4 linked regions of the Homo sapiens genome follow. The protein of the gene in region 4 interacts with the protein of the main gene of each other region in a pairwise test. Each region holds a gene or a part of one and is shown on either strand. Other genes may lie near its edges.

Evidence for each region.
Region 1: the proteins of PRR35 (region 4) and ARMC5 interact in binary tests that used the Homo sapiens proteins (3 or more experiments, as listed by UniProt).
Region 2: the proteins of PRR35 (region 4) and GIGYF1 interact in binary tests that used the Homo sapiens proteins (3 or more experiments, as listed by UniProt).
Region 3: the proteins of PRR35 (region 4) and CFAP68 interact in binary tests that used the Homo sapiens proteins (3 or more experiments, as listed by UniProt).

What each region holds. Positions count from the first base shown.
Region 1 is NC_000016.10:31,455,485-31,462,522, reverse strand, and holds the start of ARMC5 (armadillo repeat-containing protein 5), read right to left. Parts: upstream 2,999-7,038; coding exon 2,524-2,998; intron 602-2,523; coding exon 494-601; intron 393-493; coding exon 1-392.
Region 2 is NC_000007.14:100,691,228-100,698,249, forward strand, and holds the start of GIGYF1 (GRB10-interacting GYF protein 1), read right to left. Parts: upstream 3,024-7,022; 5' UTR 2,883-3,023; exon of another isoform or gene 2,710-2,882; intron 1-2,709. UniProt on the Homo sapiens protein: May act cooperatively with GRB10 to regulate tyrosine kinase receptor signaling. May increase IGF1 receptor phosphorylation under IGF1 stimulation as well as phosphorylation of IRS1 and SHC1.
Region 3 is NC_000011.10:111,882,511-111,886,477, reverse strand, and holds the end of CFAP68 (cilia- and flagella-associated protein 68), read right to left. Parts: coding exon 3,880-3,967; intron 3,343-3,879; coding exon 3,276-3,342; intron 2,708-3,275; coding exon 2,598-2,707; 3' UTR 503-2,597; downstream 1-502. UniProt on the Homo sapiens protein: Microtubule inner protein (MIP) part of the dynein-decorated doublet microtubules (DMTs) in cilia axoneme, which is required for motile cilia beating.
Region 4 is NC_000016.10:556,057-563,393, reverse strand, and holds the start of PRR35 (proline-rich protein 35), read right to left. Parts: upstream 3,001-7,337; 5' UTR 2,733-3,000; intron 2,498-2,732; exon of another isoform or gene 1,599-2,497; intron 825-1,598; exon of another isoform or gene 640-824; intron 139-639; 5' UTR 100-138; coding exon 1-99.

The sequences.
Region 1 (7,038 bases), about 31 Mb from region 4:
CTCCACGCCACCAGCATTGCCCAGTGCAGGCCGAATCAGGCCCTGGGCACACAGGTTGGCGAGGATCAGAATGGTTCCCTCGCGTACTGCCCGCTTGGGGTGGGAAGCCAGGCTGACGAGTGGGCCCAATCCCCCACCCAGACTTAGCTGCTCAGCACAGGCCCGGGAGCAGCCTCGGCTGAGTTCCAGGAGGGCACGGACGAGGGCTAAGGTCAGTGCAGCATCTGGGGCAGTGGCCAGGAGCTCGGCCAGCGGACGCACTGCTCCCTGCTGTGCCAAGGCCAGGCGGTGCTGGGGTGAGTCTGCCAGGTTACGGAGGGCACGCACCACGCTCTGTAGGCACTGCGAGTCCTGGCAGGCTGTCAGGCTCTCCACAAGCAGGGGAACAGCACCTGAGGGCAGGAAAGGGGAGCACAGAGGGTGAACAAGGACAGACACTCAAGCCTTTCTTCTGCCCCAAGCCCTAGCAGACCCCAACCTCACAGCCTCTTACCAGCACAGTGGATGTCCCCACAGCTCTCAGGTTCCATGGCTAAGTTCCCCAGGGCACGGGCCGTTCGGTTCTGGATGCTGTCTGTCTTCATGCACTGAAGAATGGTCACTGCAACGACAGTTTGGGCTTGTGAGGGTTCTACCCCTTACTGTCTCTCACATCAATAACCTGGAGAATGTGGCCTGAGAGGGCCTGGAAGGCTTTCAGAAGAGGCTAATGGTCGGCAGGGCACCGTGGCTCAAGCCTGTAATCCTAGCACTTTGGGGGACCAAGGTGGGTGGGTCACTTGAGGTCAGGAGTTCAAGACCAGCCTGGCCAACGGGGCCAAACCCCATCTCTACTAAAAATACAAAAATTATCTGGGCATGGTGGTACACGCCTGTAATCCCAGCTACCCGGGAGGCTGTGGCAGGAGAATTGCTTGAACCCAGGAGGCAGAGGTTGCAGTAAGCTGAGATCGTGTCACTGCACTCCAGCCTGGATGACAGAGCAAGACTCCATCTCAAAAAAATAAAAAGAAAGAGGCTAACACTCGGGCTGGGTCTGGAGGGGTACACAGGAAGGTATTTGCCAGAAGCACGGTGGATGGGGGTGTGAGAAGGCATTTCAGGTTTGGAAGCAGCCTTTCCAAAGGCCCAGAGGTAAGATACAGTGTCTGTGAAAGGCTTCAAATGTCAGGCCAAGGGGTCAGGACTTGAATGTGAAGGCACTGGGGGCCACACAAGGGTTTTATGAAGGGGAGTGACACGATACAATCTGACATCCATAGGGAGAATGCATTATGGGGAAAGAATAGGAAGGGGGGAGTCAAAAGGCTGTCATAATAGTCCAAGCATGAAAAGACAATAGCTTGAACCAACCCAGCTACTGGCATCACACAGCACAGAGATACCAGTCTCTGGGCACACAATGGAAGTAGGAAGAGAGAGAAGCAGATAAATTCAGAAGATATTTAAGATGAAAAATAGTAGCTGAATGATGGGGGTTATTTAATAACCAAAGCTCTTGTCAAACATATATGGTCCAGATACATTTTATGTAAATTTTAAATATATTAATGCTTCCCTTTATCCGAAAAGTTAAGATGTCATCAAAACTAGCATAATTTCGTGGAAGGCAGGTAGTGACATGTAAACTGCTTTCACACATTGCCACTAGGAGGCACCAATTTAGCTGGTAAACAGAAAAGCTTATGTTTTGCTAGGATTTGTTCTTACTGTGCTGGTTTTAATTATTTTTATTTATTTTTTCCTGCTTCCTAAGCGACTACTGATTTGTTTGGTTTTCTAAGATACGAGGTCTTGTTACGTTGCCCAGGCTGGAATGCAGTGGCTATTCACAGGCAGTCATTGTTCACTGCAGCCTCAACCTCCTAGGCTCAAGGGATCCTCCCGCCTCAGCCTCCCAAATAGCTGGAACTACAGGCGCGTACCACTGCACCCAGCTTATGCTAGTTTTTAATAACTTGAAATACGTATCATGCTTAGAATATTTGCATATTCGTGCCATATTTGTACTTCGTTTTCTCCCCACTCTGATTTTTTTAGGTAGCTATTATTGCCCCATTTTACAAGGAATCCTAGCCTCGGAGGGGTTAGGTGACTTTTGCAGATCTCCCTTTCTGAACCACTACACCTTCCAGCTCATCAGTGGGGCTTCAGAACCTTGCACAGGGCCGGACACATAGTTGGGCACTGAATGTCTGCTATGAACATCATAACTGGACGGTAAGAATCATCTGAAAAAATCACCAAATAACTCTTTGGCCTCCGCTAGTCCAGCTTCGAAAGAAGTCCTCAACAACCAATTCCTAGATAATGGCTACAATTATCTGGTCTGGGAGGGCTCTCTCTCATCTATAGAGAGTGCAGTGACGTCACGGGGCACAACAGATTGAGAAACAGGAGCGATGCGCCATCACAAAGCACGTTATTCCGGGATAGGACACAAAGAACTCCAGACTGCCCGGGTCTAGAGAGCAAGGGAGTTGCAAACCTAATCTTTCTAGGAAACGGGGGCGGAGCACTTACCCAAAGGGAGTATGCCTCCGAGTCTGCGCACTTCGGTCCGGCACGCCCCTTCCGTACAGCAATCGGCTAGGATGCTGAGCGCCAAGTCCAGCGTCTTGCGCAGGCGCACTGGCGGCGTAGGACTAGACGACGACACAGCGGAGGGGGCGGGGCCCGACGCGGGGGCGGGGCTAGAAGCTCCCGACGCGGCCGACGAGGGGGCGGAGCCGGGGCCTGCCTGGGACGGGGCGGAACCCGCTGCAGCCGCTCGCCGTAGCAGCGCGAGTAGGGGGCGGAGCCCGCCGCGTGCCCGGAAGCGCTCGATTCCCCCCGCTGCCTTGATGTGGCGCGTGCGGAGGGCTAGGAGCGCGCGGCTCAGGGGTGTCTCGTTGGTCGCTGGGTCCTTTTCCCCACCCAGAGCCTCCCCGGCCGCCGCCGCGAGCTGCGCGAGGCAGAACGAGAGCGAGTCCGTGAGGGTTGGCTTCGCAGCCGCCATCTTGGCTCGGGCCTCAGACTCCGCCCCGCTTCTCGCCGCTGATCCCAGGGAGCGGAACTGGAAGACAGGGAAATCGTCGGGCACCGCCTCGCTGACGCTGTTTAGCGCCACCGCAGTGATGCAAGTCGGAAGTTGTAGTTCTCGACCCCGGAAGTCTGTCCTTGCACACGAGGCGCGGCAGTACCTTAATCGCAGCGCATCCTGGGACGTGCGGGCGGTGCATGAGGGAGATGTGGTCCGCGTCGAGCTTCTCACGCCTACCTCGGGAAGCGCTGGAAACTCTTCCAGGGCCCTCCAGGTGGGCCAGGGCCTCCGAACAGCCCAGAAGTCCGACCACGGAGCCTTCGTGCCGTGCCCCGCCCCCGGCGTGCACTCGGCGGGGACCGCCTTTTCTCCTCTAGGCTCGCTTCGCTGCCCCCCAGCGGTGGTGCGGCCCGGCCTTGGGACGGACTCCGAGAACCCCGAGCCGGGCCGAAAGTGCGGGGTCCTGACCGCGCCGCAGACGGGGAGCCCTCGCTCGGTCAGAGGAAGAAGAGGGTTAAACCTACCGAGAACGTTCGCTGCCGCTTCCTAGAGTGACGGGCTTGTGGAATTTTCCGTTTCCGGAGCTGGACCCCGGTGTCCCGAGTGTCCTCCGCTCTGGACGTGCTCGTGAGCTCAGGAGCTGGCATCTAGGAAACGGGGAGTTCTTCACTCGCAGCGCAGTCGGCCGCGCCAGAAGAGGCGAGGGAGAATCCGGACGGGGCGGGGCGGCGGGGGAGCGGGACATTCGCGTCCCGGGGAGCCCCCAGGTCACCCCTGGATTGCGAGGTGGCTCCGCCTGAGCAGCCCTTCCTGGTGTGGTCGGGGCAGCTGCCCGCCCGGAAAATGGTCAGGCTCTAGCCCTGGGGAGGAAGAAGCCTTTGCCAAGAGCAACCGTCTACAAGCCCCAAAACCTGCGAGTGCCGGAAATGTGGACTGACCACAGCCTGCCTCCCCGGCTTCATTCACCACCAAGGCAGCCCCTCTGGTGACAAGCCTTACCGTTGTCCGGGTTATGGCAGAAGCTTCCGATGTGGCTCTGATCTGGTTAAGCACCACTGGGTACACACCGGTGAAAAGCCGTACTCCTGCCCCGAGTGTGACCATCGCTTCGGCCCTATGCCTGTGCCTAGTGTGGTAAGACTTTCAGCGTCAGCTCCAACCTGATCCAGCACCAGCGCGCTCACACCGCTAAAAGCCTTACCGCTGAGGGGACTGCGGCAAGAGTCTCAGCCTTGGCTCCACCCTGTTGCAGCACCTGCGCTCCACATGGGTGAGAAGGCCTCTAAGTGCCTTGTTTGTAGTAAGAGTTTTGTGCACAGTTGGAATCTGCTGCGGCACCAGCACAGTCACAAAGTCCGGAAACCTGATGCTTGGTGGTGAGTGTGGCCAGACCTTCGGCCACAGCTCCCACCTGCCCATCCACTAGGCGGCCCACAGCAGCACCCCTGCGTCTGCCTGCAGTGTGGCAGGGCCCTAGCGCAAAGCTCCAACCTGGGCCAGCACCAGCGGACGCACTAGGGCGGCAGCCTCTGCAAATAGCCCTGGCTTCAATTTTAGCTGAAACTTCAGCTCTGACTTTGGTTCGGACTTCAAGGAAATGGAAGGAACCAGGATCTCTAAGCAGACCCCCTTCTGCTCCCTTAGGGCTGTTGATTTTAGAGCTAATGATGGGATTCGGTTGGGGCGAGGGGGTCTCCACATCTTTTTGCCCAACCCTTTGCTAAGTCAAGGAACCCCAGTCTGGGCTGGGCATGGTGGCTCATGCCTGTAATCCCAGCACTTTGGGAGGCCAAGGTTAGCGGATCACTGGAGGCCAGGAGTTCGAGACCAGCCTGGCCAACATATTGAAACCCTGTCTCTACTAAAAAAAAAATGCTAGGCGTGTTGGCTCTCGCCTGTAATCCCAGCTACTCGGGAGGCTGAGGCAGGAGACTCACTTGAACCCCGGGAGGCGGAGGCTGCAGTGAGCGAAGATCGTGCCACTGCACTCCAGCCTGGGCGACAGAGAGTGTCTCAAAAAAATAACAAATTTAAAAATTGTTTTTAACAAAGGAGCCCCAGTCTGGAAGAATCAGAACACTAGATCTGTGATCACTGCCTTCAAAGAGCCCAGTCAGCTGAGAGGGCTTAGGTTTGTTCTTTGAAGTTACAAAGACAGAACGTCGACCAGCTGAAGGGAGAGTTTTGGAATGGCGGGAGCTATCCAGCGTGGACCCAGCTGCCTGCAGATCTGGCAGTAGCTGACACAGTCCCTTCACAGGCCTAGGGAGTGATGGGGTTAATCACACCTAGAACAACAGCTACCTCTTCCCAGAGGAATGGGACCAGAAATCAGGCAAGCCCCTGTGAGGAGTTCCATGGCAGCGCGCAGGCGGGGCATTCCTAACCTCCAGAGGGAACCATGAGGGATCCTGTGTTCTGGCAGATGGGCCAGAGAATTTGAACTTGGGACCATTGTGTGAGCCCTGGGTGTGTGAGCCCTTCAAAAGTCCTCTCAGCACGTGAGAACTATCATTATGGATGATGCTAGGGTGGTGGGGGCCCCAGAACAGACCTGTATGTTGAGTTCAGGGGTTGCTTTGTTGCATTTCTGGGCAGGGGCAAGAGGCCCAGGGTTTGTCATCTGCCCCTTCCCCTGCCTTATCCCCTTCCCTTCCAAGTTCCCCAGGCTCCTTTTCTGCCAGTCTGTCAAGAGAGGGAAGAGTGGCGAAGAGTCCTTTGTGCCTGGACATTGGGGACTGAACATGGCCCTTTTGCCTGGGCATTGCCCAAACATATATTTCTACTGGCATAACTTTGTGTATGTGAGAGCCAGGGGTAGGCTTCCCAAAGCACCTGCCTGTGCTCAGAGTAGACACCAAGCTCTGAGGCCCTTCCCTTCCCTGCTGGGGGAGGGAGTTGTCTGTTTCAAGGACCTAATGTCCACCCCTTGTGGGACAGTCCTACCATCAGTCCAGGCATCTGGTCTGCTGCCCCCAAATTTTACCATCTTTTTTTTTTTTTTTTTTTTTTTTTTTTGAGACGGAGTCTCACTCTGTTGCCCAGGCTGGAGTGCAGTGGCACGATCTCAGCTCACTGCAACCTCCGCCTCCTGGGTTAAAGTGATTCTCCTGCCTCAGCCTCCCGAGTAGCTGGGACCACAGGCTTGCGCCACGATGCCAGCCAGTGTTTGTATTTTTAGTAGAGGGTTTCACCAACCCTCTACTAAAGACCAGCCTCTAGTTGGTCAGGCTGGTCTCGAACTCCTGACCTCAAGTGATCCATCCGCCTCAGCCCCCCAAAGTGCTAGGATTACAGGCATGAGCCACCACGCCCGGTAATTTTGCCATCTTTTATCAGGCTTTCTGTGTCGAGGACGCTACCCACATAGAGTAGAACCTAAAGGGAAGGGATGTGAAGTGACCTCACCCTCAGCTTCTAGCTCATGGTGTCAAGGCTTGTGTGATCTTAGACACGTCTGCCTCTTCTGAGCCTGTTTCTTCATCTGTAAAACAGGGATGGGAGGTTGTGGTAAAGATTCCACAGCAACACTGCACACGCATGAAGTACCTGGGCCAGGGATGACTCGGCAGACCTCAGTTTCCCTCTGCCTCCTGCCTAGAGCTGTTAGCAAGCATCCATCATGCGGCTCACACAAGAGCTCCCCCCGGAGGTTACAGAAATGAAGGCAGCAGCCCCAGTCCTTGGGTAGCCTGTTTCCCCTTGAAGGAAACAGACTCAATATCAGCAACACAGAGTGAATGACGCCAGGGTGGCGAACGGGCCTTTCCTGGAGCAAATGCGGGAGGCTTCATGGAGATGACGTGTAATGAACAGCACTCATCTCAGGCTGGGAGCAGCACATGCCCCCGGCAGGGAGTCAGTGATGAGGTATGGGGTTCTTGACATCTTCCTCACCCAGGACCCTTCAGAGAGTACGAGCCAGGGTTTGAGTGAAGGGCCTGAGCCCAGCACATGCATGGTAGGCACTCAAAGAATAATTGTCATGATCAGGTCCTTTTTACACTGCTTACTAG
Region 2 (7,022 bases), on a different chromosome or scaffold from region 4:
GTCACCACTGGGCAGGGGGTGCACAGGGCAGCCCCACAGCCAAGAGCTATGTGACTCCAGATACCAAGTGCGCCAGTGCTGAGACACCCTCCTCTGCGCCACGAGCATGGGCACAGCCCTTGGGGGTCTACTGGGCCAAGGGGAAGGCAAGGGAAGGCAGGTGTGTGCACGCTGGGTCATTCTCCTCTCTGAACAGCAGGGACATCATTCCCTAATTACACTGTCCCACGAGGGAAATCTGAAATCCTGCCAGGAGAAAATCTTTGAGAAAAGAATAGATTTTTTTTTTTTAAGAAAAACTGCCTAAGTTTGTCTATTGCAAGCTCTCAGGGCCAGGTATCTGATCCCTGTCCAATGAAGGTAAGAGCAGGAGGTGGCGGGGGCTGGGGTACTGCCACCTGCCCGTCTCAGCTTACCCGGCTGAGCTTTCTCAGCTCAGGGTCTCCTTCTCACAGGCCCCTTCCAGCCTGTCCCCCGCCCTGGCCCTGCCCTCAAGCCTCGGCCTACTTCGGCTCCTCGCCCCTTCCCCACCCCTTCTCTTTCTCGGGCCTGTCTACCCTCACTCCCCCAGCATCTGAATCAATGCTTTTGAAAGACTGCCCCCTGCCGGAGACAAGGGGCGAGGACACGCTGGGCCCGGGTGCTCCAGTAGGCGCCAGGGCGCGCGGGAAAGGGAGCCTGCTCTCTGGGGCTCAGAACTCAAGAGAGAAAGAAAAGACAGAGAACAGGCGGTCCCAGTGCACATTCAGCTAAGAACATTATCTCCTCACTCCATCACCCCTAAAATTAGCTCCAACACAGAGCACTGTGCCTTGGCACAGAACAGAGCCACTTAAACAGAAGCACAGTCCCCAATTCCTCAACACTGGAACAACCGCCCAGCCCCAGGCCTGCTGGAGGGGACCTGGCCCTTTCTCAGGATGGAGATTCTCCAAGCGTGGTAGGGTGAGGACGCTGAGGCTTAAAAAAGAGATGCAAACCCGCATTCTTCGCGGCTGGTCGGTTATCCCAGCTCTCTCCTCTCTGAGCCATCCCAGCAAATCACACCACCGCTTGGCAATTGTCTACAAGTTAACAGTTTTCAAAGGATTTTCACTCTTTACCTCCTGTGATCCCTTTTGCCCACTTGCCCAGCCTTGGGCTCCAGCCAGGGAAAAGAAGGAGGAAGCTGCTCCGACAGCGTGCCCCGACATCCTTGACACTATGCAAGACTGGAGGTGCGCACGGTAGCAGTAACCATCCCAAACTCGCAAGCATTATTCTGTGAGTTTGAAGCCATTTTACATTTGTTAGACTTTCAACATCCTTCATCTAGCCTCCTCCTCTCATCTTCTCTCCTCTAAAGTGGGCTATTTTTCTTTAATTCCCAAATTCCAATAGCAGATGTAAAAGTTAGGGCTAACGCATCAGATCACGAACACAAGACTGATGTGTCCAACAGCAGAAAAAGCTAGTCCAGAAGTTTAAGCACATGGTCCACTTGACTAACCACCACGTGGGACCCTCAGGGCCCCTGGTCCCCAGGCAATGGCAGGGACACCAAGGCCAGGTCTACCCTCAAATCCTTCCCAATGGCACGACAGACCGCTGGGGGACCAAGACCTACAATCTAAGAAAATCAGATTGGAGCTGGCTAGCCTGGTGGAGGGTGGCTAGCCTAGGTCTGCAAAGGGCACAGGAAAGATGGGAAGGAGAAAGAACCCCAAATCCCCCATGTCGGCAGCAAAGGAGAGACCCTTACTGGTACCACCGATGGTGTTTCCATGCCAAAGGCGAGGGGTTGGCGGGGTTCTAAATTGAAACTTCTATATAGACTCGAAGAGGCAGTGCACAAGAGGGTGGGAAAGCTGACGATCTTCCAGAACGACACTTTGAGAGGCAGGAGGGAAGTAAGGCTTGGGTGGCTGGAAAAAAAAAATCCAATCCAGCTAACAAGTCTTTATGTAGCATCTCCTAGTTCCTAGCACTAGGATGCAACAGACCTGGAGTCTGACCGGGAATGCGAGTAATGACTGTATAACAGAGAAGAGAGACGAGGGGCTTTTAAAAAGTTACTCGGAAATTTTTTTGTTTTTTTTTTTTTTTAAGGCAAAGTGTGAGAGCTGTGGCCAGGGAGCTGCTGCACGGAGGGGCATGAGCTGAGAAGGGCCTGGCCTGGGACGGGGAGGACAAGCAGTCTCTGCTAAGGAAGGTATTTCCCGCGGCCGAGCAACTGGGAAGAAGGAGACCCCAATGACCCAGCACTAAGATCGCCGGAGCGAAAGGAAACAGAGGTGAGGAGGACCCAGGCGAGGTGCCTGGGTGGAGGGCAAGGCTTCCATGTTGGCCAAAGTCGTGGAACGCTTGGACCTGGGGAACCGCAAGGCCCAGCTCGTTCCGAGGGGAACCCAAAGGCGCGCTGGGGAGAACTCCGGGAAGCGCGGGGCCCGGCCACCCTAGGACGCTAGGGTCGGGGGCCCCCAGGCGGCCCAGGGCAGGGCTTGGCAGGGGCCCGGGGGCGACCGTTAGGAGCGCGGGGGTGGAAGGCAGCGCGCCGGCCCGGGAGGACGGCGTGCCCTTCAGGGAGGGGCGCCAGGTGCGAGGGGGGCGAGCGGTCGCCCCCTAAGCCGGGCGCCGGCCTCCCGGGGCCTCCCCGAGGCTGGCCGGCTCTGGGGGAGGGTCCCGGCGGCGGGGATGGGCCGGAGCGGGCGGGAGAGCGGGAGGACGCACCGGGCTGCGGCGGCCTCGGGGAGGAGACGGGGGAGGGTCCTCGCTGGCGGCCCGCGCGCTGGCTCCGGCGCTTCTCTAGCTCGCGGGCTCGGCGCGGCCGCCGCGGCGTCGGGGGCGGGCCTGCCCCGGGGCTGGGCTGCGGGCCGGGGGCCGCGGGGCCACTGGGCGCTTACCGCGGGCGGCGCGAGGGTCCGGTCCCGGGGCGTGGGCGGCGCGCGGCGGGCGGGGGCCGGGGACGGCGACGGCGGCTAGCAGCGGGGGAGGGGGCGCTGGCGCTCCCGCGGCGGCCGCTCCTCTGTGTTTGTGTTTGTAGCAAGATGGCTGCCCGCCTCGCACCACGTGACGCGGACGCGGGGCCGCGGGGCCGCCCCTTCCACCGCCGCCGCCGCCGCCGCCGCCGCCGCCGCCGCCGCCGCCGCCGCCGCCGCCGCCGCCGCCGCCGCCGCCTCCCTCCGCGGCTCCGGCCCGCGCCACCTCTCCTCGTGCGCTGCTCGCGTGCCGCGCGCGCCACTGCCCGGACGCCCGTCGCCCCCGACAGCCCCCCCCCTCCCCGCCCCGACACGTGACCTGGGCGCCCGGCTGGTCACGTGACGGGGGCCCCCAGCTGCGGGCGGGATCGGCCCCAGAGCGGCCTCCTCTCCCCCACCTCCCCCGGCCCCGCGACGCGCGACCTCTGGGACCGAGGCCGCGGCCTCCCTGGCGGTCCGGTTTCCTCCAGGAAGCCCGCCTGGATGACAGGAGACAATAAAATCCAGAACCCTTCATCAGGCGTCCTGGGATGTGTGAAATAAGTGGCTCAGGCAAATAAGTTGACTCTCAGGAGCCTCTTTATTTTTTTAATTATTTATTTAATTATTGAGACAGAGTGTTGCTCTGTCCCCCAGGTTGCAGTCCAGTGGCGCGATCTCGGCTCACTGCAGCCTCCGCCTCCCGGATTCAAGTGATTCTCATGCCTTGGCCTCCCGAGTAGCTGAGATTACAAGCACACACCACCACGTTTGGCTTATTTTTGTTGGCCAGGCTGGTCTAGAACTCCTGACCACTCAAGTGATCCGCCTGTCTCGCCCTCCCAAAGTGCTGGGATTACAGGCGTGAGCCACCGCGCCCGGCCCCTATTTATTTATTTTTTTGAAGCAGGGTCTCACTCTGTTGCCCCAGCTGCAGTGTACTAGCCCGATCTCGGCTTACGGCAGCCTCCAACTCCCGTGTCTCAAGCGATCCTCCCATCTCAGCCTCCTGAATTGTTGGGACTATAGGTGTGCACCATCACACCCAGATAACTTTTTTATTCTCTGTAAAGACTGGGCGGGTGGCGTGTCTCATAACATTGCCCAGGCTGGTCTTGAACTCCTGGTCTCAAGGGATCCTCCTGCCACAGCCTCTTGAGTAGCTGGGACTACAGCTGTGTGCCACCACACCCAACTAATTTTTTTAATTTATTGTATTTGTTGTTTGTTTGTTTTCCAAGACAGAGTCTTGCTCTGTCGCCCAGGCTGGAGTGCAGTGGCGCGATCACGGTTAACTGCATCCTGCGCCTCCTGGGCTCAAGCAATCCTCCTGCCTCAAGCACCCTGAGTAGCTAGGACTACCAGGGCACACCACCACGCCCAGCTTTTTTTTTTTTTTTTTTTTTTTTTTTGTAGAGACAGGGTTTCCCCCATGTTGCCCAGGCTGGTCTTGAACTCCTGGACCCAAATGATCCTCCTTCCAAAGTGCCGGGAACTCCTGGACCCAAATGGATCCTCCTTCCAAGGTGCCGGGATGACAGGCATGAGCCGCCACGCCTGGCCTCTCAAAAGCCTCCGTTTCTCTTACAGAAGGATGTTAACACTGCTCTGCACCCAACCCCCGACCCCCAACTCCACACTCTTCCTTGAGTGCTGTAAGAATTAAAATAAGTGAATGTGAAAGGCTTTGACAAGAGAGAAACTGCTATGCAAATGTGAGGTGACTGAAACCCCCTTTGTTTAAAAAAAGGACTTTTCAAGAATGACTCGCTGAACTTTTTCAAGGCTCAAAAGTTCCGCGTATGCTTTCACCTTTTTCTTTGGAAGTTACTCCAGAATGTATACCTTACTTCCCAGAAGCCTAAAAGAGCTGTCGCCCAACACAATGTAATCCTCAAAACAAGGAAAAGGTAAGTTCATGACTTGGAATTTGAGTGCCTGGTGTCTTGCCATGATAGAGTGTTGACTTCAGGAACTATTATACCTGGAACAACTTTTGTTTCCCCCACCAAGTACCACTAGGCTTCTCTGCACTTGGAGTTTTCCTGTCTGTTTTCCTTTTTTAACTATTTTATTTATTTAAGAGACAGGGTCTTGCTCTGCTGCCCAGCCTGGAGTGCAGTGGCACAATCAGCTCACTGCAGCATCGACCTCCTAGGCTTAAGTGATCCTCCCTCCTCAGCCTCCCGAGTAGCTGGGATTGCAGGGAGTGGCACACCACCATACCCGGGTATTATTTATTATTTATTTTTTTTTTGAGAAAGAGTCTCACCCTGTTGCCCAGGCTGGAGTGCAGTGGCGTGATCTCAGCTCACTGCAACCTCCGACCCCAGGTTCAAGCAGTTCTCGTGCCTCAGCCTCCCAAGTAGCTGGGATTACAGGTGTGTGCTACCATGCCTGGCTAATTTTTGTATTTTTAGTAGAGACAGGGTTTCACCATGTTGGCCAGGCTGGTCTCGAACTCCTGAACTCAGGTGATCTACCTGCCTCAGCCTCCAAAAGTGCTGGGATTACAGGCACGAGCTACTGTGCCTGGCCCAGCTATTATTTTTTACTTTTAAATTTTTGTACAGACTGAAGTATCACTATGTTGCCTGGGCTGTTCTCGAACTCCTGGGCTCAAGCAGTCCTTCCATATTGGCCTCCCAAAGTGTTGGGATTACAGGCATGAGCCACTGTGCCTGTCCTGCTGTCTGTTTTTATATTTTATTTAATATTTTAATTTTTTTCGAGACGGAGTTTCGCTCTGTCGCCCAGGCTGGAGTACAGTGGCGTGATCTCAGCTCACTGCAACCTCCACCTCCTGGGTTCAAGTGATCCTCCCACCTTAGTCTCCTGAGTAGCTGAGACTACAGACAGGCGCCACCATGCCCAGCTAATTTTTGTATTTTTGGTAGAGATGGAGTTTCACCGTTTTGGCCAGGCTGGTCTCAAATTCCTGGCCTCAAGTGATCCTCCCGCCTTGGCCTCCCAAAGTGTTGGGATTACAGGCGTGAGCCACCGTGCCCTGCCAGCTAGCTTCCTTTCTCAAAGAGGGAGTTTATAGGCTTTAATTTCTGCTGACTTCAGCATCAGTGTTCACACTTTACAGTTGGTGGGGATTACTTGTCCAAAGTCACACATTGGTGTCCAGGAGATCCAGGGAGACCCCTCTGGTCTTCCACCGTGATTGTATTAGTCAGTTCTCATGCTGCTAATAAACCTTGTCCTTCCTTGAGCCCAGAAGCCTGGGCAACAAAATGAGTTCTTGACTCAAAAAGAGAGAAAAGTGAAAAAATATAATAAAAAACAAAAAAGAACTGTGAGTCTCCCATGAAGAATTTAAAAATTACAAAGAAATCACTTGGACCTAATTGGCCGGGCATGGTGGCTCACACCTGTAATCCCAGCACTTTGGGAGGCTGAGGCAGGTGGATCACCTGAGGTTGGGAGTTCAAGACCAGCCTGACCAACATGGAGAAACCCCGTCTCTACTAAAAATACAAAATTAGCCAGGCGTGGTGGCACGTACCTGTAATCTCAGCTACTAGGGAGGCTGAGGCAGGAGAATCGCTTGAACCTAGGAGGCGGAGGTTGCGGTGAGCAGAGATCACGCCATTGGACTCCAGCCTGGGCAACAAGAGCGAAACTCCATCTCAAAATAAAGAAATCATTTGGAGCTAATGTGTTTTTGTTTGTTCAGGTGCTGCTCTGTAAAATGTCTTGGTCTGTGTTCTAAATTTGCAAACTTTTTAACTAAACAAAGAGATTTGTTTGGAAGGTTAATGGAGATGAAAGAGTGGTCTCACGCAGACCAAACAGCCAGCCTCTGCCTTTCTTTTCTTTTTCTTTTCTTTTTTTTTTTTTTTTTTTTGAGACAGAGTCTTGCTGTGTTGCTCAGGCTGGAGTGCAGTGGTGCAACCTCCGCTCCTCCGGGTTCAAGCGTCTTGTATTTTTAGTAGAGATGGGTTTTGCCATGTTGGTCAGGCTGATCTCAAACTCCTGACCTCAGGTGATCTGCCTGCCTCAGCCTTCCAAAGTGCTGAGATTACAGGCGTGAACCACCGTTCCTGGCCCTTTTTCTTTCTTTCTTTTCTTTGAAACGGA
Region 3 (3,967 bases), on a different chromosome or scaffold from region 4:
CCAGCCTCGGCCTCCCAAAGTGTTGGGAGTACAGGCATGAGCCACTGCGCCCAGCCATGTTATGTATATTTTACCTCAATTTTAAAAATGTGCTAGATACATAGGAAATAGAATAAGACATACGATATGTAAACTTAAAATATGTGTCTATAAAACAATATTTGTATTGTAAGAACATACAAATAAATTATTAGAATTAATGAGAACTCAAATTCTAAAACTGACCTAATGATGCAATACCGTTTCAATCAATATCCTAACAGTGTCATTTTATGGAGCAAGCTGATTCTAAATTTTATATGGAAATGCAAAAGTTCAAACATAGCTAATATTCTTGAAGAAAACAAGACGAAAGCATTTGATCTATTAGGTATTAAGATATAAAATAATAATAATGTAATAAAATTATCATAATTAAGATGGTGCAATTAAGGCATCATAACTAAGATAATACAAGGAATGACAATTAAACTAATAGAACATAGTAGCCCAGAAACAGACCTACATGTACATAGTTTATTTACAATAAAAATGGCATTGAATAGGAGTGAAAAAATTATGGTCTTTTCAATAACTAATGGTGGGACAACTTGATAGCCATTTAGAAAAAAAAAAGAAACTTCCTCACTACTGAGTAACAACATAAATTCTGGATCTATATCTCGAAACTAAAGTAACAAAGGTTTGAGAGGTAATATATGGGAGATAAAAAATATCTCCTTGCTTACGAGGACAACATATGGGCAGTATCTCTCAGTAATGCCCATATATTATAGTGTCTTCTTACACAGTAGATAAAAAAATAGGAAATACTAATCAGTTTAACCATATTAAAATTAAGACTGTTGATTTCCTAAGTTTACCAAACCTAAGCTATTCACAACCCTTTCTCAGTCTCTACTAGTTCCCTATTTTGACTCATTTTAAACCAGTTGGACCCTTATCTCAAATCCTTATAAATACCTTACTCTAACATCCTCCCTTTGAATCATTACCAAGACTCTGTGTCAAGTTGATGGTCTCCTTTGCTACACTACAATAGGTTTAATGAGCTTTGTTTAGTCAACAGGTTTCCTTAGTGACCTTTGTTGGGGGGGAGTAGACAATTGACAGTCCTTATCTTTTTGAGAAATATACTGAAATCTTTAAAAAAATTTTTTTTGGTAGAGATGGGGTCTTGCTATGTTGCCCAGGCTGGTTTTGAACTCCCAGCCTCAAGCTATCCTCCTGCCTCAGCCTCCCAAAGTGCTGGGATTAGGTGTGAGCCACTGTGCCCAGCCAGTATACCAAGATTTTTTTTTTCTTTTTCTTTTCTTTTTTTTTTTTGAGACGGAGTTTCGCTCTTGTCGCCCAGGCTGGAGAGCAATGGCACCGTCTCAGCTCACTGCAACCTCTGCTTCCTGGGTTCAAGCAATTCTCCTGCCTCAGCCTCCCAAGTAGCTGGGATTACAGGCGCCCGCCACCAAGACCAGCTAATTTTTGTATTTTTAGAAGAGATGGAGTTTCACCACATTGGCCAGGCTGGTCTTGGACTCCTGACCTCAGGTGATCCACCCACCTCAGCCTCCCAAAGTGCTGGGATTACAGGCATGAGCCACCGCACCCAGCCCACCAAGATTTTTATAGATTAAATTCTATTTCTAAGATCTGCTCCAAAATTAATTCAATAAGACAAAGTAGAAGTAGGTAAGATTAGTCATAAATAGTTGATGCTGGGTAATGATACATGGGAGTTCATTAGACTAGCCTGTCTACTTTTGTTTTACGTAAAATTCTCCATAATAATTTTAAAAAGTTACGTTTGTTTTTGTAGTCCTCAAGAGGGGATGTTCACTAAGGTCACAGCAAAGTTGCACTATACGACTCTGGCTTATACCCAGAAAGCATCTAGCCAAACCTAGCCTAAGTTATGCTAGATTCTGAGGTCTTGCTACGACAGAAGGAAGGGAAGACCACAGTGGTTGTAGACTTCAGAGAAATAATTCTTTTTTTTTTTTTTTTTTTGAGACAGAGTCTCGCTCTGTCACCCAGGCTAAAGTGCAGTGGCATGATCTCAGCTCACCACAACCTCCACTTCTCAGGTTCAAGCGATTCCCCTGCCTCAGCCTCCTGAGTAGCTGGGATTACAGGCGTGAGCCACCATGCTCAGCTAATTTTTGTGTTTTTAGTAGAGACAGTGTTTCACCATGTTGGTCAGGCTGGTCTCGAACTCCTGACCTCACGTGATCCACCTGCCTCGGCCTCCCAAAGTGCTGGGATTACAGGCATGAGCCACCGTGCCTGGCCTAAAATAATTCTTTTTAAGGCCCTTCTACAACACCCCAAATGTAGAACTGAGTTGCTGTATTAAATTTGACATTTAAATCTTGGTTAAAACAACAACAAAAAAAGGGATAAAGAATATTTACTGTGTTTTTTGCTTTATTTATTCAGAGAGTGAAACTGTGTTACAGTGAGCTAAATTTTTAGCTGTACTTAGAATGTGCTCCCTCCTACATTTCACTCTGGAAAAGTGAAGTATCTTATCATTTCTTAGAAACCTGGATGTGAAACTAGTCAATATTAAGATCTTATACACATCCTGAGTGATGCCCAATTTAAGGCTTTGAATAGCTATTCATGTAAGTTGACTTTTCTGTGCATTTGTATCGGGGAGGATCCAGTTCAGGTTGATGTCCTGGGAACCAGTGAGGCTCTCGCTTAAATCCTGAGGGAAGAAAAAAAAAGGAAGGAAAGACAAATGAAAACAGTCAACACTAAGGAGTTTTAGTAACTGATCTTGCTCTTATTTCTAGGGAATAGACAGTAAGTCCTGTTAAAATTGAAGAAAAAATCCTGTTTACTCATTCATGTAGTTATTCACCTTTTTTTTCTTTTTTTTTTTTGAGATAGAGTCTCACTCTGTCACCCAGGCAGGAGTGCAGTGGCTTGATTTCTGCTCACTGAAACCTCCACCTCTCGGGTTCAGGTGATTCTCCTGCCTCAGCCTCCTGAGTAGCTGGGACTACAGGCATGCGCCACCAAGCCCAGCTAATTTTTGTATTTTTTTTAGTAGAGATGGGGTTTCACCACGCTGGCCAGGCTGGTCTCAAACTCCTGACCTCAAGTGATCTGCCTGCCTCAGCCTCACAAAGTGCTGGGGTTACAGGTGTGAGCCACTGCGCCCAGCCTCACTTATTCACCTATTCAGTTTACTTTTATTTGAGTTCCTTCTATGTGCCGGTCACTGAGTTAGGTTCTGAAAATGTAAGAATTTGAAAAAACAGTCCACGTACTATGTGTTGAAAGTGGCATTTTGTTGTTGTAGCTTGTATCATATGTTGTTTCAAAGTAGTGTCCAAACTGGAAAGAAAAATTAACAGATTAAGAATCTGGAAGTCTACAGCTAACATCAGGAAATAAAGATCAATATGACATGAATTCTCACGGACTGTCATATTTTAGATGGACTGAGTTCTATGGTGTTAGTCTATATCCTTCTAACTTTCACATGTTTTGTACGTTTGTTTGTTTAGGAGCGATTTAAGTGCAAGACTCAGATAAATGACAAGTCTAGATAGGCAAGGACCAGGGGAAAAGCTAGTCTAAGTCAGAAGACATTATAAATTTCTGTAGACTAAGAGATAAAGTCCAAACAGAAGTAAGAGAAAAAGAGGACTGCCCTTCCTTTTGAAACCTTACAGATAATAAAATATTCAACTTGACAGTAAAGTAGCATAGGTGGTTCAGCTGCGGACTGTTCCTCTGCCCCAACCACTTCACTGAAAACTGAGAGATCACTGCACCAGAAGTTATTACATCCCTGCATTTCAAATGGCCACTACATTTCTTTTGCCAACAGAAGGAAACAAACAAACAAAAAAGACAAAGTTAGATTACCTGGGAAGGCAAGGGTTTGGGCTGCACGATATTCCTCAGGTCATATCTTTCCTGGTTCCAGTTGCCCATCAGGGTACGGTTTGAATAG
Region 4 (7,337 bases):
TTTGCCCCAGGGCCGCGGGATGTAGTGTGGCTTCTTGGGCTTCCGAGACCGCGCCCTCGCCCCTGTGCCCACGCGGCATGAGCCCGCCTCCCGCGACATGGCAGCCTGCTATGAGGCAGGGCCGGGCACCATGGCCACCTGTAGATGGGGCCACAGTCAGTGCCAAGCCTGCCTCTGACTAACTCCCCACTCCTCTCCATCCATGGCTCCCCAGGCTCCAGGGACTGGAGCCTGGGTGCTCCCCCCACCCCGCCGCCTCTGCCCTGCAACGTGCCCCCCGAGCCCCATCCTTCGGCTCCTCCCCACGTGCACTTCCAGGGTGGCAGCAAAGTCCAGGGCACCAAAAAAAAAAAAAAAAGTCCAGGACAGCGAGCTGCATCTGACGCCGATCAGCAGCACGTCATTTCTGAGTGTTAAGTGTAGCCTAGGCAATATTGGAAAGGCACACTAGAAAGGTGTTCATTGTTTATCGGAAATTCGATTTTAACTAGGCGTCCTTTATTTTATCGGTTGACCCTACACACATCCCCACCCCTGAGGCCAGGCCGACTTGCTGGCCAATTTCTAGGATAGTTCAGCCCACACCCATCTCCCCACAGCATGTGAGTGGCTAAAAGAATCAGCGTGACCAGAGCTCACTTCGGGTGGACGTCAGCCTCCTGGTCTCATTCCCTCCAGCAACCCTGGCCCCTGCCAATCTGCCTGTTCAAAGCCTAGGAAAAGGCACTGAGATGAGACACCAACGGAAGGGTCTGTGTGGGATGATGCTGCGTGTGTGTGTGTGTGCCTGTGTGTGTCTGTGTGTGTGCATGTGTGCGTGTGCATGCACGTGTGTGTGCGTGCATGTGCGTGTGTGTGCACACGTGTGTGCGCCTGTGTGTGCATGTGCCTCTGTGCATGCTTGTGTTCATGTGCACGTGTGTGCATTGTGTGTGCATGTGTGCATGCATGCATGTGTGAGTGCGTGTGTATGCGTGTGTGTCTAAAGGCGGCACAGAGCCTGCTCTAGCAGGGCGTCAGGTGGGCACTGGGGGTCTCTTAGGGGGTCAGTCTCATGTGGGGCCAGGCCAGGCTGTGGGGAGTGGACGTCCCAGCATGGCCCCACGGCTCAGCCACCTGCTCAGCCCAGCTCCATCTGGGTGGCTTCGGGCAGGTCAGCGGCCGAGCCTGCAGCGGCCACACTCAGCCAAGACCCGCTCCTCCCCACGCCCCACACGGCGCTGGTATGCGCGCCACACTCCATCTGGGCCGCCACCTGGGCTGTCCACCGCCCCAGCACGCGCCTGTGTGGGGTGCACAGCACGCCTGCGCACACGGGCTTTGGGTGTGTGTACACAGCCCACAGGCTCACACAGAGCCCTCACCCAGTGCCCGGAGAAGCCACCTCTGTGCCACCTAAGCTCAGAACGGAGTCTGCCACCAAGTGCGGGGCCCTGGCTGCACACACCTCACACTCCATCACGGTGAACACGGCTGCTTGTCCGTGATAACACACTCACCACCCATCCAGGTGTGGGGGGGCTTTCCAAACCACTCCAACACGGCACTCACATGCTCACACAGGCCCTACACACCGACTCCCCAGGACACACGCAGACCTGGCTGGGGGTCGCACCCGTGGTCATGCATGGCCAGTGGGTTGAGCAGGGTAGGGCTGGGGCACTGCTGTCTGCTGCCCCCAAAACACTGTGTTGGTGCCGTTGGGGGGACGACCAACAGGGCTGGAGAAGTCCACTCGTCCAAAGGCTTGGGGCCCTGCAGGGCAGTCACGGGCTGCAGGGGCAGGCAGAGGCTGACCAGCTGGTCTGTGGCTGAGACAGGGTGGCGGTCGGGAGGCAGGGGCTGGGCCAGGAGAGGTCCTGGGGCTCCCCGAGGGGCTGCAGACCCGGCCTGGACTGGGTGGTGGGTGCAGAGGCGGCCCCTTCTCCCTGCCCGCCGCCCCCCCCACCCATGTGGATGACAAATGGGTGTGGGCGCTCCGGCGACAGAGGCGGCTGTGCCGGGCCATCGATCACCCAGCCCTGGGAGCCACACAGCTGTGCCAGCCGATGCCACAACCCATCCCGCCTCCCAGCAGGGACCGGGGGCTCCCGGGTCAGGGGCTTGTCCAAGGGGCTGTCTCAGCAGCTGCTGACCCCTTGGGGACCCGGAGGATAGCTGGCACCCACCTGGTGTGTGTACACAGAGCAAAAGACACCCCTGGACAGCAGCCACACGCACACACAAACGCATACGCACTCACACGCGCGTCCCAGCCGGACCCGGCAATCGCTCCCGGGGCAGCCAGCAGCCCTGTGCCAGGCCCCGACACCCGGCCCCACTCACCTGTCCCTGTTTGGGGGAGAGCTGGGGGAGAACCGGTGGCACGGGGGGCACAGGCACCCCCACAGGGCAGGAGGGGGCACCCAGCAGCCGGGGACCCTGATCGGCCACCCGCAGATCCTGCTGCCCCCCCCCCCGGGAACGCAGGGCGCCCCACACAGGCGGGTGCGGCGAGCGCGAGGTCAGGCGTCTGCCCCAGACCCCAGACCCGGCCCCTGCCCTCCCCGCCTGGCCCCTGAGGGCGGCCCTCCCTCCCCCCGCGCTGCTCCTGGACTTCGAGAAGAGGGTGGGGGGGACCCGGCCGCCCCCCGCGCCCCCCACACGCCTGGCCACCCGCTGCCCCCGCGCCCCGCGTCCAGCCGGCCCCGCGACGCCCAACTGGCCGCCCCCGCGGCTCCCGCCGCTCCTACCTGCGCCCGGCCGGGAGCGGAGCCGCCAAGTCTGCGAGGCCGCGTGTAGGGCGCAAACTTCCCGCCCCTCCCCGCCCCGCGCCGGCCGCGACTCGGACCCCGCGGACGCGCTGGGGCTCTGGGGGTGGGATGCGGCTCCCGTGGGGGAAACTGAGGCCCGGCGCCGGGAGCCGGACCTCCCGGGTCCGCGGTCCCTCGAGCGGCAGCGACTCCCGCAGCCTCCGCCGCCGCCCGCGTCCCCCCGACGCCGCTCGCACCTCCCGAAGTTGGCGGCAGAGGCGGGCGCGCGTGCGCCTGGGCTCCGGGCTCCGGGGGGCGCTGCGACCTCCGACCGCGCTCGCGGCGGGAGGGAAGGAGCAGCCCCCGGCCCGAACCCCGCGCCCCCGCCGCCCGCGCGCCCCCCGCCGCCCCCTGGCGCGCACTCACCGGCCTCGTGCGCCGGGACCGGCTCAGCTCTCGGGGCGCGCGGTGGAGCGGCCGGGAACCCGGGAGGCAGCGGACGGAGAGCGGACTGCGGCGCAGGTGTGCGGCCGAGTCAGGGGCGCCCGGCGCCTCCCGCCCCCGTTGCCCGCAGGCTGCCGCGGGGGTGCACAGAGGCCGCCAGGTCTCCCGGGTCCCCGCCGCGGCGTGATGGGTGTCAGCGGCGCGGGGCGCGGGAGAGGGGCCGTCAGCGCTTATCCATCAGGGCTCTGGCCCCTGACAGCCGCCGGCCCACCCGAGCCAGGGCCCCTGGGGGCTGTCCTGGGGGACAGGGGTGCCGCGGACTGAGCCAGCGGAGCCGGGCTCCCTTCCTTGCCCTCCCTGGGCGAGCCCTGCCCTCCGTTCTCTTTTCCTCTAAACCGGAGGCTGCCCGGACCGGCCCCTCGCACCCCGCCCTGCCGGCTGACCGCCTCCACCTGGGGCTGGTCTCCAGCACCCTCCCCCTTCCTGGATGCGGACCCCTCCAGCCCTCACTCCCGGCTCCTGTGGGAGGTGCCTCAGCGCTGCCCCACGAGGCCACGCACTTCCCTGCTGTTTGAAAGACCCCCTCCCCACGGGAGTCCCCTCCTGAGAGGACCTGGGGCGGTGGAGGAGAGAAGCAGGGCCAGGGCTGCTCCCAGCCCCACCTCCCGGGCTGCACCAAGTTCCAAGCAGCTCCCTGAGCTGCCAGAACGTAAAGGCCTGGAGCCCCACTGCTCAGCTGGGGCCTAGGGGAGGTTCGCCTGACCGGCCTGCTCCCTCCCGGACACAGGCATGGCTGGGGCAGAGCCCCTGACTTCGCTCAGGGGAGACGTCCTAAACCCGACACTTGCGGTAGGCGGGCGTCTCGGGGTCTCCAGCCAGAGGGGAGTGTGCTACTCCCTGCTGACTCTGAAACAGCACAGGGAGCCCGGCCCACATAGCTCCCCAGGACCTGGGGCTCTCTGCAGGCTCAGCCGCAGGCTCCCGGGCTGTCCCCAGCTCAGGTCGGGGTCAGGGGTGCCTTGGGGAAGAAGGGAGGACCCCACGGGGCTTCTGGGTGTCACCCCTCGAATGGGGCAGAGAAGAGAGCTCAGCAGCATCTCCGTGGCCCCGGTCCGGCTGCTGGCAGAGCCCCCTGGTAGAGCACACCCAGGGTCCATGAGGAACAGCCCCTGGTTCTGGGGTGGGCGTGGGGCTCTGTCTCCCTCCTGCCTCCATGCCACCTTCCCTGACACAGCCGCACACGCCCGTCTGAGGGAAGTCCCTGGGGCGGGGCAGGGGACTGGGAGGGGTGCTGTGGATGGCAGAGCATGCCAGCCTTCTCTCTGCCCACCTGGCCTGGCCCAGCTGACCAGCTGACCGTGCAGGCAGCTCCGGGCCGGGAGACAGCTTGGGCTGCCGTCACGCCAGCAGCCCCGTGGAGAGCGGGGGCCAGGAGGCCGGCTGCTTCTGTACATAGACTCTACTCTGGACGTGTTCAGCTGAGCACTGCCCCGGGAGACTAGGGTCCAAGGTCACCCTGACACCAGTAGTCCCTCAGTGGCCAGCCCGAGACTGACCCCTTTGAAGGTCTGGAAGAGGCCACAGCTGACAGCACAGGAGACCAACTGGCTGGAGGCTCTGGCCATTGTCCAGGGGAGGAAAGTAGGGAGCAGGGAGGCCTGGTCTTGGAGCACCTAGATGTCAGCATACAGGAAATAAAGCCCAGTGAAGCTCAGGGGACCAAGGAGCCCCAGAGGGGGAACAAGGCCGTGTCTAGCGCTGAGCAGGCTGAAGGAGCACCTCCACCCCTCACCACCGATGGGCCTTTGCAGAAGTTTGCATGAGAAGAGAAGAGGGGCAGCCTCGAGAGGGGCCCCGGGGCACAACTTGGACGTGTTTCTGGCCTCCCGGAAGGACTCTGGCAGGGAGGATGAGGGGGCCCTGCACCTGCTGGTGGGGGTCCTGAGATTCAGCCGTGCACGAGGTGGGGGGTGAGGAGCATGTGAGGCCAGTACACTGGGTGCCCAGATGACTGTTCCCATCACAAACAGCCAGGCGAGGCCGGGATATCAGTGCCAGCACCCCGCAACCACAGGGCCCCCTGGGCACGTCAGCTTCCTCACTGTGGCCATGACCCACCTGCTTGGTCCCAGCTCTTGCACACTGGGCTGACTTTGGGTTTGGAGAGGTGGCTTCTGCTTCCTGAGGCAGTGACTGGGACTCTGTTTTGGCACCTGTGCCCCCACCCCCCCAACTTTCTGGCCCATGGCCCCCATCTGCAGAATGGGCAGTGGGGTGCTCAGTGTCCGGGCACTTCTGCTCTGGTCCTAGTGGGTGCCCTGATGTCTCCTTAGCCAGTCCCAGTGCAGGGTGGGATGGGGACCCCATGGCCCCTCCTTCTGCCTCCAGCCAGAAGCTCATTTTTGGCCATTAACCTCTTCTGCCCGGTCTGCCCACGGCTGCCCGCCTGTCACCTCCATTAACAATGGGACTCTGTGCCGGGGGCTCACGGGCAGGACGGAGAGCTGGGCTCAGAGAAGGCAGCGGAGGCAGCGCTCGGCATGGCCAGTGCCCGGGGGCAGGCCTGTCTCATCCCCTCAGTGTCGACACACAGCCAGTGTCAGGACAGGTGCAGGGGCCGGGGTGCCTGCACCCACACAGTGAGGGCAGTGTCAGGGCTGCAGCCAGGCTGGAGGCCCCACGCAGGTCCTGAGACCGGGGCAATCTATCCAGCGGCAGCAGGTTGGAGCCCCCACGTGGGGTCAGTACCTTGCAAGGTGTCCGGACACAGCTGATGTCTGTCCTTTCAATAACGGACCCCAGGGCCTGTGGCCACCCTGAGCACTTCAAGAACCCCAGGTCTACAGAGCATAGGCCTCCTGGGGGCTTCCTCCTTGCTGCCCACTTGAGGATCCCTGGTTGAGAGGGGCAGCCCAGCCTTGGCGGAAGGGGTCATGGATACACGTGAGGGCCCTCGGCACCAGCCTGAGGCTGCTGGCCTTGATGGGCGGGTACACAGTGGGGGTGCCAGGGGAGAACGGAGGGGGCTGGGCAACCGAGTGGGCCAGAGCGCCCAGGACAACGGCCCAAGGGTGTGGGGGGCACACGAAGAGCCTGCGGAGCTCTGGGGTCCCTGGGTCCATCCACCTGAGGGAACGGGGGCCCTGTTAGGAGGCGCCTGAATGGGGGCTCCAGGAGTCTTCCGGCTCGAGCACTACCAGGGATAGTCCTCCCCAGCAGCCCTGACCATCCCAGAGTCCACACCAGAGAGTCCCCTCCCCACCCGCCTCCCGGCTCTGGAAGACCCCAGCTGGGCCCTTCCCCATGCACTACACTCTCATAGACGTGCCGGGTCACTGGCCACCCTGGGCCGGGTGCGGGGCTGACCCTCTGTGTGTCCTGAGCCTCTGGGACGGAGGAGGGTACAGGACGCTCCTTGGAGGGCTGAGCTGCTGTGGTGGGAGTGAGCCCCGTCCCAGGAGGCTGGGATGTAGACTGACAGAGGGGGCAGCCAGCCAGGCGGGTGGGACGGGAGGCTGAGGCTGCTCGAGCCCCCACCGGCTCCCGAGCCTGGCACTGGCCAGCAGCGCCCGGGGCCGACAGCAGCCATATGTTGGGAAGAGGAGCTGTGTGTGTCTCTCTGCGGCCCCCGGGGCTGGCCTTCCTGGGCCTGTCACAGATGATTTTCCCCGCCTGAGTGGCAGGCGGGCTGGCGGGCGGGGTGGCGGGGCCTCCAACTGGCAGGTGGGGTGGTGGGGCCCCATGTCCAGCCCCCCCATAGCCCTCAGCACCAGGGCTGGCCACTGTTGGGGTAGATCCGGGTCCTGGGCCTTGGCCTCCCACCCCCCAAAACCTCACTGAGCACCCCCGGCCTGCCATGGCCACCCCTGCCCAGGTCTAGGTCGGGGTCCTAGAGGAGCCCTGGCCGGCCAGTGGGGAGCGGGCACTCCTGCCAGGACATGGGCAGGCAGCCAGGGGTCCACACTGGGCAGCAGTGCGCCCCGGGCAGGCGGGAGAGGGCCTGGAGCCGCGGCCCAGTCAGCCTGGAGCCCAGAGCTGTGGAAGGAGGCGAGGAGGCCACGGCTAATTTGTACACTAAATGCTTCTGACAGCGATGCCTCATAAGTGAGAACTTGCCACTGCCCACCCCGGGAAGGCTGTGGCCAGCAGCGCCAACAAGAG